Linked DNA regions of Homo sapiens: region 1 is linked to region 2. Evidence: fine-mapped expression QTL. Tissue or cell type: whole blood. Region 2 holds a variant in brackets; the other region holds the start of a gene. All regions are shown on one strand. Distances are between the middles of the regions.

Region 1 (10,784 bases), 130 kb before region 2:
ATATATGGGTTTAAAAAAATCGTCATCATCAATGTGTTTTGGGTAATAGCATTTCAAATCTTAACTCTGAAGAAAAGAATACAATATGCAAATAGGGGACATCCTTAACCAAAAAATGTTGTCAATAGAAAAACAGCTAAATAGTCCAGTAAAATCTTTGTATTTCTTAAAATATTCTGGATGGCAATTCATAACTATATTTTCCATTAATAGTCATCAATTTTAGCTAGTGTAAAATATGTATAGCAAATAGACTATTGTTTTCTGTTACAAGGCATTATTGACTCAATTTATTTAAACTTTTAACAAAAAAAGACATCATTTGGCAAAAGCAAAACAGATCTTCTAAGGATTCCCCAAATCTTAGAACATTATACATATTTAAATCTAAATATTTTAAATGTACATCTTTGTGAACTTTTTGAGATGTGGGAGACAGAAAACAATAGTTCACAAAGTACAGGATGTGGGCTAAATGTTTCACTGTCATAGAGAGGTAGGGAGAGATCATAAGAAAGTGACAAAGACACAGAGGCCAGCTGTATTTATCATTACTTATCTAAGAGCTGGTCACTCTCAGGTATTTACTATGACTTGCTAATAATTCCAAAAAGAGCTGTATTACAGAAGAGATCAAACCAGAAACACACCCAGGTGTTTCACAAAATAAAACTATGATGTTAGGCATATTATTCACACCACCCTTCCTGGTCTGAGATGTCACAATAATGCTATCAACCTACCTCATTTTAATCGACAAGTGATTATGGAAAGTTGATTTCTTTGAATTAAATCCATCACATCAAGAAAGCAGTGCCATAACAGTTCCAGTATTTATGGTGACCCACAAATCATTTGCCCCCTTGCATGCCTTGCTTCTCATCCTGTTCAGTTGCAAGACCAGAAAAGTTGAGGAAGGAGGTTTCCCTTCATGGAAGGTGATGGATTAACATAATTATCATATAGCTTCATTTAGAGTTGATAACACATCTATTCTGCCTCAAAACCTTTCCTGATAGCGATGCCATGAGCTGCATAATAATCACTATGCTTTGATTAATTATTTTGCCAAATAAATGGATAAATTAATTTCACCTACATACACTGATAGCCTCAGTTTCTGCAGGGTGTTGCTTCTTCCTATGGCAACTACTTGGAATCAAAATAGAAGTAATACAAATTGCAGTACTGAGCATACCAAATGGTTACAGTAAAAAGATTTCCATTTCAATTATCAGAATAAAAATATCACATGAAGTTTAGAACTTGGAGTGAAGAAAACTCCTAATTAAGGGAAACTTATGAAAGCCTTTAGCAAGTTCTTTGCTGAATGCATTTTTTGGTTTCTTGATCCTCCAACCAATCACATTGACAATGACAAAAGATATGCAAATTTAAACTGACAATAGTCAAGCCACATTGCTCTGACTCATACCAATAGGGACGTTTTCAGCATATATTCAGCTTGATTTTTACACTTGAAAGGGTGAATGTAACCAAAGAACATTTTAATAGTTATTCTTGGCTATAATCTGAAAGCTATCCCATAATCATTGACCAAGAACAATGCAAACAAGAATCAAATTTATTTTGCAAAATAAATTAACATATGAAACACGTGCATGATTTAAGCCCAGCAGAATTATGTGTTTACCCTGTCACTGCTGAATAATTGCATAGCAACAAGAAATATGCATTACTATGTTTGAATCACTATTGTGATTATACGCTTTAAGCAAACAAAACATTACGTTTTTGGTAGAATAGATCATTCAGGATAACTTGGGACTAAATTTTCCTTCCCGTTCCCTCAAAGAATCCAGACTAATATGTAATGATTGAATTCTCACTAAAAACTATACGGATGGTGTACTGAAGAATAATAACAAGCTGTTCAACCAAAATCATTTGTTTACAATGGAAATAAATTTTACCAAAGAAAAATACAAACATCCTATTATAAACTACTACTGAAAGTAATGCATAAAATTTCAGCTACAATTGTAAAAAACCTGAGAGTTCTGTTTGCTTTTTATTCTTCTGCCTACCTACTGATTGCCTATTACAGTCCTATAGTCTGTAATAGAAAGATTACAATATCAGCTTTGGAAACTGTAGAACTACTAAGTTCCAGTTAATGTGTCAAATAAAATAACAGTGATCTTAGTTCAGTCCCTAGTGGACAAAAGTAGAATAACTATTACTTGGCATGATTCAGCAGGCAATGACCTAAGTGAGTGTGACCACACAGGAACAAAATAGAGCATTTGTCCTTTCCCTATCTTTTATCTTTTTAAAGGGATTGCCCGGTTAACAGACTAACTTAAAGAAGCCTGATTGCATACCTATCTACATGTACCAAGTGAATCCATTAACAAGGGAGAGAAGCTTTTCACAAATTGAGACATTGCCTCCCTTCTAGTAGCATAGTCAGTTGAATATACTTATTCTCGGCTGCCTATTATTAAACAGAGTGCAAAGACAGAATGAATTGCAGAAGTGTGTTCATAATTTAATAGGCTTATCTTCAACAAAAACTTAAATGGTTTGTAGATAAATAACTGGATAAACTATTCGATTTGATTTCTATAAATTGAGATTACATTCATACTCAACATTAACATTCATCAAATAACATGGATACTTAAACTCGCCAGGTACTGTCTCTAACTACAATGCCCTGAGAAGGGAGGTATTTCAGGAATATAGTAGACTACATGCTGCGTTCAGCCCATATCTGCAGGTGCATGTCTTCCTCAACAGCCAGCATGCCCTCATCGTGAGCGAGCAACCCCTTTCCGACAGTTAACATTACAATGTATCTTTTTAATTTTTTTTCTCAAGGACAGAAGAAAAAAATATTTAACAGAAATCAGTCTACTATTCTACCACTTGCTGAAACTAACAGTTCCCTTTACATAAATATACAATTTCTCCAACCAAATATCATATTTTATATTTACTCTCACTTCATGTTAATTTTTATAAAGGTTAAAAAAACAAATACTTTGTGATGATTTGCCACCCCAGCGGCACAAAATTTTCTGGTGCAAAATCGATTTGATCTTATTAATTAATATTGTCATTATTATTTATTTTTCACCAACTTGCTTAAGAGGTACATACTTTCTTTCTTAAGGTAGTGTTTTGACAGAGAGAACCTTAATGCTGAACTTTAGAAAAGAGAAACCAAAAATGTCATAAAATTTGCCAGGGCTAGACACACAAACGGGGTGCCCCCACACATTCATAGGTTTGGGCAAGCCCCCAAACCTTGGCTTACCCAGGAAGCCAAACCCAGACAGCCGTCTTGCAATTGCAAACACTGCCCCCCTGGAGCAAAAGGTAAATACACAAATGCTCCCCTAAGGAACTTTAAGTTAGCTGCAGTGCAAGAAAGGAAAAAGGTCCGTGCTATTAGAAACTGAAAGCAATCACTTACTTTTTGCAGCCACTGAGTATAATTTTCCATCACATGTTCCAGATGTTGAAGTTTCTGGGAAGAGAAATCCGGTTCCACGTGTGGAGCATCTCTCTGCAGAGCGTTTGTGTTGTACTGGTCTGTCGTACTCTCACGACAGTTGCCATCGTGTTCTGGAAGAATGAAAGTGTAGGCACATTGCCCATGTTGAATCCGGTTATATCTTCTCCCACTGTTTTCTGGACTTCGGCGCTGATTGCTGCACCCTATGTGAGTCAGAATGGCAGCGAGGAAAGCAAAGGAAAGGAAAACTGTCATTGTACTGCCAGCACACTCCTTCCGTGCCTCTCGCAAAACTTGCTCCTTTCTTCTGACCTCTAAAACTAGTTCTTTATTTCAGGTAAAACTGCTTGTTTGTTTGACTCTTTCCCCCTCAAAGAAAGCGTTTGAAGAAGAATCATAGAAAACTAGCCATTTGTTAGCTTTGTTCTAAAATTTTAAAATTTTTTATTTCACTGCAATGATGTTTTTCTTCGTTAAAACTTGAGATATTTATTGCATAGTAGCTGAGATTTATTGTTTCCTCTCTGTGTGACCGTTCAGCATGGAGCCTGCCTGAGTCAGCTGCGTGTACATATTCTAGACCCTTTCCTCTACCCTATCTGCTGCAGATCTGCTATTTTCTCCCAGACCTCAGTGAGTTTTATTAAGGTTGCACATCCAAGCCAAGCTGGAAGCAGGCAGCCTTTCACAAGATGACTTGACAGGAATGCATGAGTGTGCCCCTATACTAAGGATTGCTGATGGCTTAGGGCGGCGGGATCGTCTTACAAATTGGCTAGATGCGCATGACCTCGATCATGTATGGCCCTCCCGCCCCTTTCCACAGACAATTGCCTTGAGCCTTTAGCAGATTCATGGCAAATCAATAAATAGAGCAGTCCACCTTAATACACTTTTGGTGTGCATGCTGACCTACTAAAATATAGCAAACTAGCAGTATGTTTTTAAAGTTACTATTTAGTCGAGGGACCCTAAGAAGAAAATTGGCATAATGTCCAATGGAATTATTTTTGATAGAGAATGATAAACCCATATCATTATTAAATGTCTTTAAAAAACATGTATTCTTGACTCTGAGGAAAAATATGTTAAAAAACAGTTTTTACAGATGGTATTCTTTCATTGTATTCACTTAGACTTTTAGGAGTTGAAGAAAATAATCAGAGAGGATCAAATTAGCAAGAAAATTAGCATCATTTGTTGCTCAAAGCAATATGTTGCACAAAGCAATATAGTATGTGCATATTAAAGAGGGTTATCTAAGTACCTTTTGGTATAGGGTTCTTAAATGAAACTGGTGTCCTGATCAGAATGCAACCCTTCATGTTCTGTGTATATAAATTGAGCAACTTCCCTACAAAAACAATGTGGCTACAATTTAAAGCAGTGGCTTGAGAATTATTAATTCCTGTGGTATATCCTAATCCTGTATTTTACAAGGATCTCTTTGGTGGCTATGGCTGTCTTTAACACTGGTGTGGAAGTTCCACATAAAAACCTCCTGTGGCTGCACAGACATACTATGTGAGAACAAGCATATATCAGGTGTGCTAACAGCCAGCAATGGGCTGTACAGGAGACATCTCTGTGCTTCTGTGAAGGAAGAAAGAAAAATTATCAGAAGATGATTTCCCACAGGCAGCGTATAAACATTTGAACAAAGGGACCCATAAACATAAACAGGCAATAATTGTAGAATTTAGGGAACGGCTTTGAGATCTTTACTAGATGCAGAAAACCTGAATTATGAGTTGGGATTTTCATTAGGAACTGGGAGGGCTTTTAGACAACTGCAGTCATGGTGTGAAAACAGAAGCCACAGCTGTCATCTCCCATGTCTTGGAAGGAGAACAGGGCAGTGGGTGAAGGTCCGTAGTGGTTAGAGATGGGCATTTAGGGAGAAGTTAGAGGAGAGGTCAAAACAAATTCCAGAACAAATGCGATTTACTTGGGGAAAGAAACCTTGCCGAGATTCATCAGTCCTTTCCACACCAAATAACAAATTTCTGATTGGACAGATATGGAAGCAAGTTATGCCAAACACAGCAATAAAATATTTGAACCACTTTTGCAGCCTCTTGAACTTTTGCGTGTCTCCTCATTGAGTCATGTATCACTCCTGTGCAACAATAATAATGGCATGCATTAAGACCTTACTGTTTTCCAGGCGAAGCACTCCTTACACACTATCTCACTTAATCATTCCAACAAACCTAAGATCACGGATATCATCCGTTTAACCCCATTTTATCAATGGGAAGACTGAGTCACAGAAAGGCTAACAGGATGTAATTCACAGAGCTGGCAAGTGATGGCGCCAGTATGTGAACTCAGGCAAACTGACTCAGAGCCTGTTTCAAACCACCAGGCCAGCCTGCTTTTGGAAATCTCTGCAAGGAATGAAAGCAATTTCAAAAGCGCTCCAGCTGCATTGATTTACAGTCCTAAACCAGGAGAAGTGACGTACCTAGAAGAAAAAGCACTGTTAAAACCAGAGTATCTCTCCAAAGTGATTCAGGCCTTTTCCAGCACACGCGTGCGCGCGCACACGCACACACGCACACACGCACACACACAGTGACAGGTAACCTATGCACAGCCACAAAGATGAAGTGCACTGGCAAAATGCAGGTTGTCTAAGAACACTTTCCAATAATGCTTGATTTGAAAATTATCCATGGAAAGAAGAGAGTCCAAACCCGACACCTAGAAGTGTTTTGCGAAGAACTAAATACAGCAGAAAATTGGCAGAAGACTAATGGATGAGTGGTGAGGTTTCTATTAAAGTGCTCCTGTGTTTTTAAATAGCCGAGACTGTTAAAAATCTGTTCCTCCACGTGTGTGTCTGTGTACGTCTCTGTGTCCTTATCCATGTGAATTTTCGCAATTAGAATAAATGAAAAGCAGGAATGCACAATTTCCTGAGGGAAAAGTAGACACTAAGAAAGAGAAGCCTGAAATGCAAATAAAAAAGGAGGGGTCGAGGGACAAAGAGACAGAGAAAAATGTAGAGACTGATTTATTTCTTTTGCAGAAAAACAAAATCAACCTTAAACCATAACACTGGAAGTACTAGTGTCATTCTGAAAAAAAATGTCTGAAGATGAATTTTAAGTAATTAGAAAACACAAGGATGTGCAGAATTGACTCCGGTGTTTTTGGAACTCCAGTTAAGGAGACTGTAGGTACATTTAAGGATCCTGACACACTAAAGATAATATGTCTTTGGGATCATGCATCTAAGCAACAGCAACACTGTTGTGTGTTGCTGATTATTCAGAAATGGGGCAGAATTCAGGATGCATTAAAATTTAGGGAGTAGGGCTGGGTTCAGTGGCTCATGCCTGTAATCCCAGCACTTTGGGAGGCCGAAGTGGGAGGATCGTTGGAGACTAGGATTTTGAGTACAGCCTGGGCAGCATAGGGTGACCCTCCCTGTCTCTACCCAAGATAAAATAAAATAAAAATTAGCCAGGTGTGGTGGCACGCCCAGGACCTGTGGTCCCAGCTACTCAGGAAGCTGAGGTGAGAGAATCGCTTGAGTCCAGGGGGTTGAGGCTGCAGTGAGCCATGATTGCCACTGCACTCCAGCCTGGATGACAGAGTGAGACCCTTTCTAAATAATAATAATAATAATAAGCGAGTAATAAGAACAAGCCAATTAAAATTCATCTACCACACCTCCATGAAGGATAAAATATTTATAAAGAACTAAACAATTCTGTTCAATTGAATTCTGTGGTAGCTTGAACCCAAAAGCTTTGTGTTTTATTAGAGATCTGGAATAAGGAAGTGTAGGCTTTAAGGTTTTGATCTCATATTTACAAAGAGTCCTAGTAAATGTCCCACTTAGTCTGAAATTTCCAAAGGGACCAAGAGCCATTTATACCAGAACTTAATGTGCCTAAATCTATCCTAAGAAACAGTCTTTGATAATTCTTTGGTAAAGCTTTCTTAATTTCTCCAGGTCCAATAAATGCTCTCTGTGTTAAATTTCAATAACCTTCTCCTCATGTCTCCAAAACTGCACTGCTCACGTTGCTTGCTAATTGTTGCCTTTTTTTTTATCTGTCTCTTGCTTTTGCTGTGAGCTGCTAAAGTGATCTTCTCTTTGTCATCATTGATTCCTCAACATTCACTATGCACTTTGTCTGAAGGAATGAAAGAATAAGCAAATAAATGAATGAGCTGATTAATGACTCAGTTGATGCAACTTCCTGACTCTCTATCTGGTTACTACATGACTGGCCACATTCATTGCATTTGTTGGGTGAGTTTGCCTAGAATCCCTAGGCATGAAGAACTGAGGATAAAGCCAAACTTATTCTAAAGAATGAGTTAGACGCAAGAGCAAAGTACAATAATAATTCATAGTATTTTTTAACACTTAACAAATAATTTTCTCATCTAATGTTTACAGAACCCCCATAATTATGTAATATTATATATTATTATTCCCATTTTGCTGATGAGAAATGTGGAGCCATAGAGATTAATCGCCCAGGATCTATGATCTCTTAGGAGGCAGAACAGGAATTTGATCCTCAATCCATCTAACTGTGAGGCTCACATTCATTTCCCACTGAGCTATATTGTTTATGACAATACTTCAGTATTGAGAAAATATTTCTTATAATTTAGGGAACAAGAACAACATGGTGACTTCCCCCTTCAGAGGTCCCTTTCCTCTGAAACCCAGGGCTTTCACAGATTCATGTTATGATCTTCCAAAACAGGGATAATATTAAATCAGGATGCACCAGTATGGTAAGATATGCTTACCAACAGCCAATCTGATTAATCGGATTATACTTTAGAAATATTCTAAATGGTTGGTCCTATGCCATGTCATCTGTTAGATATCTTGATCATCACTCCTGCTCTACAATAAAATCAAAATATATGAAAAAAAATAGTATTTATTTCTCAAAAATACCACCAGGCAATGAGATTCAAGGAAATAGTCCTCTGGTATTTATACAACCACTTATAGGGGAAAAAGGGGTGGGAAAGTATTCTCCTACTTTGTGTTCTGAACACAATGTGATTCACCACACCAAGGGTGCCATATTCTGTGACTCTGCTCAGGCACTTTTAGGGATCAAGACTATCATCAGGCCTATAGAAGTGGCAGCTCTATCTAAAAGGAGGGAGGGCACTTGGCTGTAGCTCCTGGAAGCAGAGCCAAGACACCTTCACTCAACTATGTAGGCAGCAAAGGTATCCACAACAGTTGGAAATATCACAGGGGACAAAACCAAAAACAGAAGAAGATGGAGGATATCATCTGGTAACTGAAGGCACTTCATGAGTACATGCAAAATATCCATTTAGAACTCCCAGAATAACTGGGAGGATGCTACAAAAAGCTGGAAACACTGCAGCAAGTGGGATGAGGACTGGAGGCATATAGATAAGTGAGGAAAATAAAAATTATCATATAAATATTCCTCTGTCTTTTGATGACAGAAATTTCTGGTAATTGTTAGGTATCTTGTTTGTTAAGTAGGTTTAATTTAATTTTATTTTTGAGACAGGGTCTCGCTTTGTCACCCAGGCTGGAGTGCGGTGGCATGATCTCAGCTCACTGTAGCCTCTGCCTCTGAGGCTCAAGTGATCCTTCCACCTCAGCCTCCCTAGTAGCTGGGACTACAGGCATGCACCATCGTACCCGGCTAATTTTTGTATTATTTTGTAGAGATGGAGTTTCACCATGTTCCCCAGGCTGGTCTCGAATTCCTGGACTCAAGCAAACCACCAGCCTCGGCCTCCCCAACTGCTGGGATTACAGGCGTAAGCCACCAGGCTCAGCCTGTTAAGTTGGTTTTAAACTATAGATATACAAGGTGGAAACCGCTGAGACTGAATTAATTTGCTCTACCTAAGAAAGGAGAGAAGGGATTAAGAGACTCAGGAAAAGATCTAGAAGTGGAGGACTGGAGCTAGAGAGGTTTAGAGATTCTGTGTCAGGCAGAGCTGCTGAAAGAGAGAGGAGGCTTGTGGCTGTGTGGCCATGAGAGACTTGGGAAGATATATCAAGTAAGGAGATTTGGAGTGAAATAATGTTTCCAGTGAGATCAAATTTGTCTTATCTGTTTCAGTAAAATATATACTTTGGGGCAAATGACTTCTTAAAGGTGAATAAGAGGAATTGAAGAATTGGTCTTTGCTTCAAGCATGGGAACAGCTAACATATGGATTACACAGACTATTAATGTGAATGCAATTGAAGTCATTTGTTTCAGGTTTGTTTTTCACACTAGATCAGAGTCCCAAATGCTAGAACTGTGTCTGTCTTATTGATCTGTCTGTCCCCTTTTCCTGGCACAGAGGATGAACTTTATAAATATCCAGCTGACTGTCTGATTCATTCACCTTAAATCTCAATGATGAGATGTGAAGACACAGAGCCAGTCCCTTACAAGTTTTCAGGTGCTAGACTTGCATAGGCCCTAGAGATCTCACTTTGTGGTGAGTCATAGAAGGCACCCAGAGTCCATAGATTCCAAAAGTCAATCCCAGCAGTGGTAGTGGAATAATACCTAATACTTCCAGCCACCTATGAACATTGCCACGGTTGAAAAACCATTCAAGAAACATCTCAGAAATACCTCTCAATGTGAGATTAGTTGTTAATTCTACAATGAAGGTAACTTCTACAAATACGCAAGCCAGAAAAGAAAACAAACAGCTGAGGACTGTACCATGCAGAAATACAGATGCCAACATTCCCCTCATACGAGAATGAAGAAGGATTTCCATTGGAGACCCAGTGAGATTTTATTATAAAAAGCATATAAACTACTTTGCATTTACTAACTGCCTCCTTCTTTCTTCTCTTTTTCCCTACAGAAGTCTTGATTCCTAGATGAGAGCAGAATGCAAAGGCCTCTCTGTCTCAACTTTTCCAACTTCAGAAAGCACATGTATTTTACATGTTCTAAGAAACTCTCAAAAAAGAACAAGTAATTTCAAGAAATGCCTGGAATTACCATTTCATGGGTTATGGTAACCCAGTGGGACTTGGATAGTTCTTGTAACCAGTTCTTGTAGCCAAAGTACCCTCCGCTGAGAGTAACTCAATGATGTAGGACTTTCTGTTCAGAGGAAAAACTATGTTGTGGTCACAGAGTTGTTACAACCTCCACTCATGAGTTAAAAAAAGAATCATTCACAAGCATTGTAAACTCAGATTTTAAAAAATACGAGGGAAATAAGATCCTTAATGTTTTCTAAAATTGCTTGTTTTTCCTCTTTTAGTCTTATTTTTATACTCTCTCTTAATCTAATCTTACTTCTG
Region 2 (10,784 bases):
CAGGTGAGGTGCAGGGATACATTCAATCACATATCAGCAGCAGTAGTGGTCAGGACGCTTCGATTGCAAATGACAGATATGTAAGTTGAACTAGGGTGTGCCTAAAAGGGAGTTTGTTGACAAACATAACATTTCACGGATACAGCTGTGGGTTCCGCCTCAGAGAGGATAAACCTAGGAGCTAAGGGCCCTTGCTCTCTCTTTTTCTCTTTCCATTATTTTATCTTTTGGACTTCATTTTGTAAAGTACTCTCCCCAAAAGGAAATTTCATGTCTTGATAATGTGTATTATAAAATAAAAGTGTGTTCACCTCTAGCCAGTTCCAGCTTGGAAAATCGTGCAGTCTTGATTGGTCTATTTCTTGGACCAGTACAAGTGTCTCTGCTAGACTGGAGCCAAGGGTGAAAAATGGGGATTTGATACACTACCTCATAAGGAGAGAAGTAGAAGTGTTCACCATGCTCACACAAAAATCAAAAGCTACTTCAGCTACCAAAGCTTTCTTTACTTGTGATTACCTATGACTAAATTATTTGATAATTTACTACTATTATGGGCTGAATCATGTTCCCTTTTACCTACCAAAAATGCAAGCAGACACTAGAAGCTGGAAGATACGAATAACAAATTCAATGTTGAAGTCCTAACTTGCAGTACATCAGAACATGGCTGTATTTGGAGATAGAGGTTTAAAAGAAGCACTATGGTTAATTGAATTCATTGAGGTGGACCCTAATTTGATACTACCAGTGTCCTTATGAGAAGGGATTAAGACACAGATATGCACAGAGAAAAGAAGATTTGAAACAAAGGGAAGGAGGCAACCATCTACATGCCAAAGAGACAGACCAACTCTGCCAACACCCTGATCTTAGACTTCTAGCCTCCAGAGTGGCAAGAAAACAAATTTCCATTGTTTAATCCACCCAGTCTGTGATATTTTATCATGTATGGCAGGCTTATCAAACTAATATATCATTTAATGGGATATTAAGATTAATGTGTCTATAATGATAGCAGAACCCATGGTACTTTTCCTGTTGTCCAAGAATTTGTCTAAAGATTCAGATGAAACTAAACGTGGCACATCTTCTGCCTATAGATCTTCCGATGATTGGGGCCAGGCACCTCCCTTCATGACCTCCTGAGACGTGCCAGTTCAGAGATCTTGGCCAAAAGTTAACCCTCCCCTAGTTAGTTTCACCTACAAGTTAATGTAAGAATGAGACTACAAAAGAGGACGTCAACTTTCAGGGGCAAGTAGTTGTCAGCAGGAGTGGCTTTCCCACTCTGCACCTGATGTGAATGCTATACTTCCTGGTTATCAAGGATGTGAGACCTTCAAATGAATTACTTCTAAAGATAGGAGATGTTATGAGAAGAGGACACCAGAGTTCAACTCCCTAGCAAGCTTCTCAGCCAGCAGAAACAAGCTAACTTGCCAGAAATTTGTAAAAGTTTTTGATTGTTAGGTATTTTCTCTAATACTATCTATCTAATTCCTTATAAAATGTAAATTCAGTTTCCACTTTGACAAACTTTAGATTTGAGTTTCTTAGGCCAATGATCTCCATGTGGACCAGCAGTTTAAGCAGAGCTACTGCTTTTGACCATCATTACACTCTTTATTGCCAGGCAGATTAATTTATAGAAAATTACTTGCAGCTTTTATTGGTGTTTCCTTATCCTTTGACCCTGAAAACAGAGATAGGTCTGAAGATAAACTCTTTGAACCCAGAATAGTTACCTACTGCTTATTATCAAAATGAAAACTAGAACTGCCAGAACAGATTTTCCTTTCATGGTGGTAAAATGTGAATATACTATGAACTCTCCTAATTTTCCTTGTATATTGAAAAGTATCAGAGAGCTGCGTACATAGACATTTTTATCACCCAATCATCTGCCTACATTAAGGCATGTGTGCTAGGCTGAATAACTACCCCGCAATGAAGGCCATATCCTCATTCCTGGAATATGCTATTTTATGCAGCAAAAGGGACTTACAAAACCGGAGATGGGGAAATATCCTGGATCATCCTGGCGGGCCCAGTGTAACTACCATGGTCTTTGCAAAACAAAGACAGAGGGTTAGAATCAGAGAGAGAAAGAGTTCTCTAATAACTGAACCAGAGGTCAGGGTGATGGGCCAGTAAGCAAGAAATGCAACCAGACTCTAGAAGCTGGAAATTTAAGAAATGGATTCTCCTCTAAAGCCTCCAAAAGGATCACAGCTCTGCCAACACCTTGATTTTAGCACCCTAACACTCATTTCAGACTTTCTATCTCTAGAATTGTTAGATAATAAATATGTGTTGTTTAAAGCCACTACATTTGAATTAATTTGTTATAGTAGCAATGTTGTTCTATCAACAAGAAACTAATATAGCATGCCAAAATAAAATGTATAACATTTTCTATTTTTCTTATTGAACTAATATTGTTGAGTATGTTGTTTATGCCATCACACTATGTCTTCTTTTTAGACTTGCACAACAGAAACCCTCTTTGGATGTCAGTACACAAACAACTGTGTCTCCTGAGCTCCCAGAATCTGTGGATTACATTCCTGATTATTCTCTCACATGGGGTCTTCCCTACTAGTATACTTGAATCCAATCCATTCTTAGGAACACTACCTTTATCCCTGGTTCAACTTTGTTTCCTGTTTTGTTTGCTCTTTACCCTTTTTTCATTTATTTATCTTTACTTTCTTATTTTATGCTCTTTTAAGTCATCTCAAATAATTTTTAAAAGATGAGTATAAATGAATAAATCATGAAGCAAATTCTTATGAATCTTTTATTAAGAAAGATCTTCTTTCTGCTTAATTGAAGTCTTTCCCATTGCAAATTAATCTCAGTGAAGCCTGAGCAACATAGAGAGGCCCTGTCTCTACAAAAACTTTAAATAATGATTATGGTGGAATGCACCTATAATCTCAGCTGCTCAGGAGGCTGAGCCGGAGAATCACTTGAGCCTAGGAGTTCGAGGCTGCAGTGAGCGATGAGTGTGTCACTGAACTCCAGCCTTGGTGTCAGAGTGAGACCCTGTCTCTAAAAAATCAATGAAAAGAAAATATAGAGATAAACGGAGGAATTTGGAAGGATGCCATTTTGAAAAAAAGAAGAGTCTAGAGGTTTATTTTACTTTATTTTCAGCTTAGACTAACAAATAACATTTCCATTTTAATGGAGTTCAGAATATGTTTTCCCAAAATATGGCACTTTGGCATTTGAAAAACAGCAGAAGCAGGATGGACATCTCTTTGGCCTTCTCCTGCCATTGTGCCCTGAAGCAGACCATAAAATAATTATCTGACCTTCCTCTAAAGTAGGTCATCATTCTCATTCCAGAGGAGCCCTCCCTCTACCCAGAAAAAAGGAATGAAGACACAGAGAAGAATCTGAACAAACAGGTCTTGCTAAGTTTTACCCAGTTTATTACCGTTGGGTCAGAACTTTTTGTCCTCTAATCATACTTCTGCACAATTGTCCACAAAACTGCACAATTTTCCCTGTTTTTTTTTTTTTTTTTTTTTTTTTTTGGCAGGGGTCTTCATCTCTGAAGGCTTCTATGTCAAGTAAAACTTATACTACATAGATTTGTGTGCTTTTCTCTTGTTAATCTAATTTTTTATTACCAGGGTCTCAGTCATGAATTGAACAATGAATGGATGAGAAAAAAAAAATCTCTTCTCCCCTACAATTTTACAATTATCTTTTTGAGACTAAGTCTCCCTCTGTCACCCAGGCTGGAGTGCAGTGGCACCATCTCAGCTCACTGTGACCTCCACCTCCCAGGTTCAAGTGATTCTGCTGCCTCAGCTTCCCGAGTAGCTGGGACAACAGGCACACACGCCACCACTCCTGGCTAATTTTTTGTATTTTTAGTAGAAACGGGTTTTTGCCATGTTGGCCAGGCTGGTCTCAAACTCCTGACCTCAGGTGATCTACAATATTTTTTTTAATAAAGATTCATCCTGTAAAATCCATTTATTTACACAGCCTCCATTCTGGAAGCAAACTCACTGATAATATGATTTCCCTAATAATGTACATAACAATTCTATTTGTTTTCTACGTAGATGCGTTTATAATTTATAGTTTCCTTTGTGCATGATGATGACAGACTGATATTGGTCCTGTATCCCAAACAGGGATTTAACTAAGATCAAAAATTGGGTTTCAAAAAAAATCCTTTGATTTTTGGCAACAACTGTTCATTCTTTGGCTAAACCCTCGTCTGTAACATTGGCTTCCCATGTTTGAAGGGCTCTTGTATAAGCATGAAGAACTGGCTTTCTCTGCTCTTCACCCAGTGACCCATGACATTGAAACAACCTTTGTCTTCATTGTGACAGAAATGTTCTCATTCAATAGTTGTCACAGAGCACTGTTCATTCAAGGAGTTCCGCTTAGCTGTTACTCTGCAAATACATTTCCTATAGTTGATGCTGATATTGGGGAATTAACCTTTCACACCTCTTTTCCATTTGATCCTACCTGTTGACATTTGTATGCCAAAAAAAGAATATGTCAGTGTCATGAGAAAGAGTAGATATGAAGTTCCAAAGTGCTTGTCTGCCAAGTAGACAGGTTTAGCTGAGGAAGGTGACTGGGAAATGTGTGAAGATCACACCAGACATTGAGATGTATGTTTAGAAACAGGGAAAAAAAAAAAAACCTGATTAGCAAGAAAGCTGGTAGGAGCAAAATCTGGGAAGTGAGCAGATAATAGCAGGTGACAAAGTGGGCCATAAAGTGGTGAATAAAGAAGAACAATTTGCAGAGATGCATGCACCATTCAGCATGAAAACTTAGTAGTCGGTCAAGGAGACAATAGCCTTGACTGGTCGAAGTGGAGTTTGATTTGACTTTTTAGGACTTGTTGTAGAATGAGAATTCCCTTGATCATGTGGGAAAGTAGGGAAGACCAGTGCCCAAGTCACTCATGGAACCTTATAGAGAGAATGAGGGGGCCAGCAAAACAGTAAATTATAACACTGCAGGGCCAGATTACAAAATGTTTGCTCTAGGTAACAAATATCTGTGTTTTCTTATAGAAGGAATAGAGGGTAATGCTTCTAAATCTACGTGTGTATGATGACAGATGTTTATGCTTCCAAATTTATCTACGTATGATGGCATATGTTTTTATTCATCAATATATTGCTCTTTTATTTCTCAGCCCTCTGTGACAATATTTTATTTCTTTCGTTTTGTTTCATATCTGTTTTCCTCAACAGGCTGTTTTCTTGCCCTGGGGGGCAGGAATCAGATTTATTCTGTTGACTATTCAGTATCCAGGCAGCAAGGACAATGCCTGTCACATAATAGGCGTTAAATATATACTTATTAAATAAGTTGATGAATAAATAAATTAGTACATGAATGATAAACTCAATTTTCATGGATGCTTATTGGTGAGTGACTAACTTGTAAAACTATGACCACCCAAAACTAGATTTGGTTTCTATGTTGGCAAAACATCAGTCTATTTGAAACATTCAAATGAGTAATCATGTGTTTGGCTAAATATTTATCACTCTCCAGGAATTAGAGAAATAGGACTTATAGATGCTTTCAGTCTTTTCTGTCTTTGAGTGAGAAAAACCATAAATAGAACTAGAGCCCTGTTTTCACGTTGGGGCTTTTGTTTTATAATTCCTAGAATGCATGGAAACAGTAAAAATACTAAATATTTAAAAAATTAAGAATGTGGATTAATTTTAGGGTTAACTAATAGGTTCAGTCTTTCCTCTATTTGGTTGTTAAGTCTCCGTACTCATACTTTGAGGATGTTTGAATCTATTTGTCACCCCCATCTGTTTACATTTAGATTTGAAAACTAGATAGCACTTGTGTAATACAATGATTCAATTTGGACAGTGCC[A/G]TATTTTAAGGAAGCAGTTTTAAGAAACTTTTTTTTTCTCCACGAAGCTAGGACAACCTCAGTATGTCTAATCTCTAACTTCTTTTCCTGAAAGAGAATCTAAACAAACCCTCTTTTATGGTATATTAGAAAGCAGCACGTTCCTCGTTCACCAAGGATACTTGCTAACATCTCAGGAAAAACAGGTGCCTACGTATAAGGGTCTCCGAGCTCCCAAAGTCCTGCTGAATACATATAATTCCTCTTTCAGAAGGAAAATAACAATACATATAGTTCCTCTTTCAGAAGGAAAATAACAATACATATATTTCCTCTTTCAGAAGGAAAATAACAATACATATAGTTCCTCTTTCAGAAGGAAAATAACAATACATATAGTTCCTCTTTCAGAAGGAAAGTTTTGTGAAAGAATAGCCATTTTGAAACCCAGGAGTAATCAAATATCAGTGGCATGAATAAACATAATTATACCCCCATGAAGAGAAGTTAAGGAAAATAGGGAAAAAGGAAGAATCCTGTAACCATGGAACACTCTACAGTTTTTTTTCTTATTGTTTTGTTTTTTTTTTTTTTTTTTTGGCAATCTAATGCCGATAATTCTCACTATCATTTATTTTCAAGACCATGAAGCTAAACGTCAACTCATTAAATGCTGCATGCATATCTTCTTTTCAGAAATCTTCAATTGATTACAATCAATACATCTTGAAAAGAGCCTTTGGCCAAATCCAAGATTCCTCTGCATAGATTATTGCCTTCAGTGATGGGAACAAAGGGAAAGAAGCCTGCAGAAAAATGTGTCTTCCCTGGAGAAGCAGGCCCTGGAGGGCAATAACCAAGTCAGGAATCAAGGCTGTAATTTTGCAGGCACATGTCTTATTAGATAAATGTGCCTGCTTTTTGTGAATTCTGGAAACTGTTCTCCACTTCATTTATTCTTGGTTTTTCCTTTCTCCCCTAAGAACTTGCCCAAGGGCATGAGTGCCCCCCTCCTGTATCAGCATGACCTGGATGTGAAACATGGAGCCAAAGGAGATTATGTCAGAGCTTTAAGATTTAATTATTGCCTTGTTGGATTTTGGACTTGCATGGGGCCTGCAGCCCCTTTGTTTTGGCCAATTTCTCCCATTTGGAATGGGTGTATTTACCCTATTCCTGTACCTCAATTGTATCTAGGAAGTAACTAACTTGCTTTTGATTTTATAGGCTCATACATGGAAGGAACTTGCCTTGTCTCAGATGAGACTATGAACTTGGACTTCTGGGTTAATGCTGAAATGAGTTAAGACTTTGAGGAACTGTTGGGAAGGCATAATGTGAGAAAGACAAAATTTGGGAGGGGTCAGGGTTGAATAATATACTCTGTGTCCCCACCCTAATCTCATCTTGATTTGTAATCTGAAATGTAATCCCCACATGTTGGGGGAGGGACCTCATGGGAAGTGATTAGATCATGGGGGCAGTTCCCCCATGCTGTTCTCATGATGGTGAGTGAGTTTTCACGAGATCTAATGGTTTTATTAGGGGCTTTTACCCCCTTCACTCCTCTCTCCTGCTGCCATGTGAAGAAAGACATGTTTACTTCCCCTTTTGCCACGATTGTAAGTTTCCTGAGGCCTCCCCAGCCATGCAGAACTGTGAGTCAGAACTGGTTATAAATTACCCAGTCTTGAGTATCTCTTCAAAGCAATGTGAGAACAGACTAATACAGAACTCATATGTATAAATAGTCAAAAAATTAAATATATAAATGAAGCAGCAGCAATGTGGAAAAAAAAAGTGCCAAAAATTGGTATAGTGCTGTCACATCTATTTGTAAATACTCTGGAAATACATAAATATGAGATTACCCTCAGCGAAATAAGTGTTAATATTATTTTGTTCTATTGCCTGGGATACACAGGAACTTTAAACCAAAGGCAAAGATATATTTTCCTACCTTCTCATCTTCAACTCCCGTTAGCTTCAGTTTGGAAGAAAAATGTCTTAAAACTACTTAGCAGCAGGGTATAAAGGAAGAGGTATGTATGTAAATGCATTTTTTGTTTGTTTGTTTTGTTTTTAAAATATGCTTTATTTTTTAGAGCAGGTTTAGTTTCACAGCAAAATTGAGCACAATGTTACAGAAATTTCGCATATACTCCCTGGCTCCACACATGCATAGCCTCCCCAACTACCAAAATTCCACACCAGAATTGTTCATTTCTTACAACCAATAAACCTACATTGACACATCATTATCCCCCAAAGTCCATTACAGTAAGGTTCTCTTGTTGTTGTGGATTCTATGGGTTTGGATGTAAATGGTTTCTTATTTCCTAAAATGCTGAAGAATAATCCATTACCAATATATTTAATAATTCAGTAACTATTAATGAAACCATCATTATTTCATTAAAATGAAGTTGACTGTGATGCAAGAAAAGAGTACTGAATGATATATCTTTGACCGCAAAGATTTTACAACATATTTTAATAAAACAGGAAGTGACAATATAAAATAAAAAATTCTTAACCAAGTGCTTTTTTGAGTGACTTTTACCTGCAAGATGATATCTTAGAATCATTACTATAAACTAGTGGTTGGGAATAGCGGGAGGGATAAATATAATTCAGATGTGCATTCTGCCCAAAGAGCTTAAAGTTTAGTCAAAAAAATATGACATGCATCTAAACAGTTATAATTGAAAGATAAAAGTGACAAAAATATGTGACTGAGAATTGTGAGAATATAAAGAATTATTGGAACTAACAGAAGGGAGAGATTTACTTCAGCTAATCTGATATTGCCTAAATGGGAGAGGTGGTTTATTAACAGGTTCTGAACAAAGGCTGAATATTTATTCATGAAGAGAAGAAGTAAGCAAAGTCACAGAGTCTGGGAAATGTGGAAAATGGCCGTTTATTCATTCCATCAATTCAGCCTCTATTTATGTGTCTATCCAGCACCTACAAGAAGCCAGCCACTGTTGTTGGTGTCGGAGACACAACAGTAAATATAACAGACAAAAATCCTGTCCTTGAGGAACTTACTATTGTGTGGAAGCAAAGTTTAAGTTTGGTCTAAGTGAAGTGGACTTTTTAAAAATGCAGGGGCAGGGAGGGGAGGCAGAAAATGTTCGGGTGGGTAGAATAAGGCTAAGTCATAGAAAGTCTTGAAGGTTAAGCCAGAAAGTCCAAGTTTTGTTGTTTACATAAAGCTAAGCCACTAAAGCTTTTTGAGTAGCAAAATATCGTCATCAAATCTGTACTTCTGGAAGACTAATTAGGCAGCTAATTTGTAAGATGAAGCCAAGATGATTCAGGTAGATAGACAGTGCAGCAGCTCTGCAAAGAAATAACACAGACAAGCAAGTCAGGGGAGAGAGATCAGGTGCTGGAGAGGATATATGTGTCTCTAGCTGTGAAGTTAAGGACACAAAAAGCCTGTTTTCCAAAGAAGGCAAGAAAGTGCCTGGCCAGCACTTCATAATGCGGTTTTGCCCAGGAAAGATTAAGTTTGCAAAACATTCACCCTTTCCTCTGGCAGGTTAATTCTCTTTGAAGTGGTCAGTTAACGGATCTTTACCCCTTTACAGGCATTTCCTTTTGCCGAAAGCAGTGACTACTGAGGTAGAAATGCATTGGCTCCAGAGAATTGAAATGGACCTCCCATCATTAAAGTCTTTATTCTCGAAGGAACACTGAGGATTGAGGAGAAAGGGGCCTTTTTGTTCGGGTTTAATTCTATTGCCTCCCTTGCTACTCATCTGTTTAGCAAATGAAGAGAGAAATTAATGATGATGATGAATGAATAGCGGAGGGAAATGGGTAGGCATTGTAAAGTTAGGCCAATTCACAATCGTCACCAAAATGAGCTTGATGCTTATTTTCCTAGTCTTTAGACCTCTGCCTTTATCCTTGGTTTTTCTTTATTTTTCTGTTATTCCCAAACACACCAATGTACAAAGTGAGTCTGCGGCCAGCTCACAATGAAAGGAGTAAAGAGCTGTCTATTAAATTCCCAGCTGTGATCTGCAGAAACTGAGACTTTCAAATATTACCCACAAGATAGATGACAAAAGTGACAGATAAATATAAGCATCTCAAAATCCCAGGATAAAACACAGATTAACAGTACTCACAACAAAATTTTGAGCACACAAAAAAGTTGGAAAATGGAAAACACACCTATACACACAAATGTACTCATGCAAACATGCAATACACACCACACACACATATAATACAAGATATATCCCCTGGGTGATACTGAAAAATAAAGAATTTAATTAACACCTAAATACTTTTTATGATCTCTCCCACTCCTGTCCCTACCCAGCTACACACACACACACACACACACACACACACACACACACATTTTTTAATCCCTCCTTTTAAAGCCTTAGTCTTCTAAAAATAAGAAAAAAATGAGTAATAGGCTCTGAAGATCTGCAATCCTGTGTACGAATTCAATTTCACCACTTGCATTCTATTTCACTGGACTTTCTACTTAAATTTTCTGAGCCTCAGTGTTCTCATCTGTGAACAGGACAAATAAGAGTACCTACTTCAAGGTTCTAGCATGTATTCAATGAGATCATGCAGATAATTGATTACAGTGCTCAGTAATTAATAAACAATAAATGGTATTTATCAATGTTTATTTTATATTCATTGTTATTATTATTAAACCTTTTAAATTAAGGAAACCATATGAATAAAACACAATTTTTTGGGACATATAATGCAGTTGAAAACTCAATGAGTGCTAGCAGGTCTTGAAAGTGCAAACTCACTTAAAACCCAGGTGTCCTGGGTCAGCTACTATCACCTCTAAGAAGAGAGAGAGCCTTACAACTCCCAAACTTAAAATAGCTCTGAAGTGTTGGCAAAGATATCCTTG

Evidence for each region.
Region 1: ANGPT1 starts here. The variant in region 2 is fine-mapped to the expression of ANGPT1 in whole blood (INTERVAL, PIP above 0.99). The same link has a PIP of 0.9 or more in neutrophils.

What each region holds. Positions count from the first base shown.
Region 1 is chr8:107,493,820-107,504,603 of GRCh38, forward strand. It overlaps ANGPT1 (angiopoietin 1), which reads right to left and starts at 4,099. Exons shown (of 9, transcript NM_001146.5): 1 at 3,443-4,099. The coding sequence starts at 3,739. RefSeq lists a silencer at 7,598-7,798.
Region 2 is chr8:107,626,395-107,637,178 of GRCh38, forward strand. No RefSeq gene overlaps it. Among named protein-coding and RNA genes, the nearest start is that of ANGPT1, 130 kb to the left of the region's middle. The variant A/G (reference allele first, on the strand shown) is at 5,897.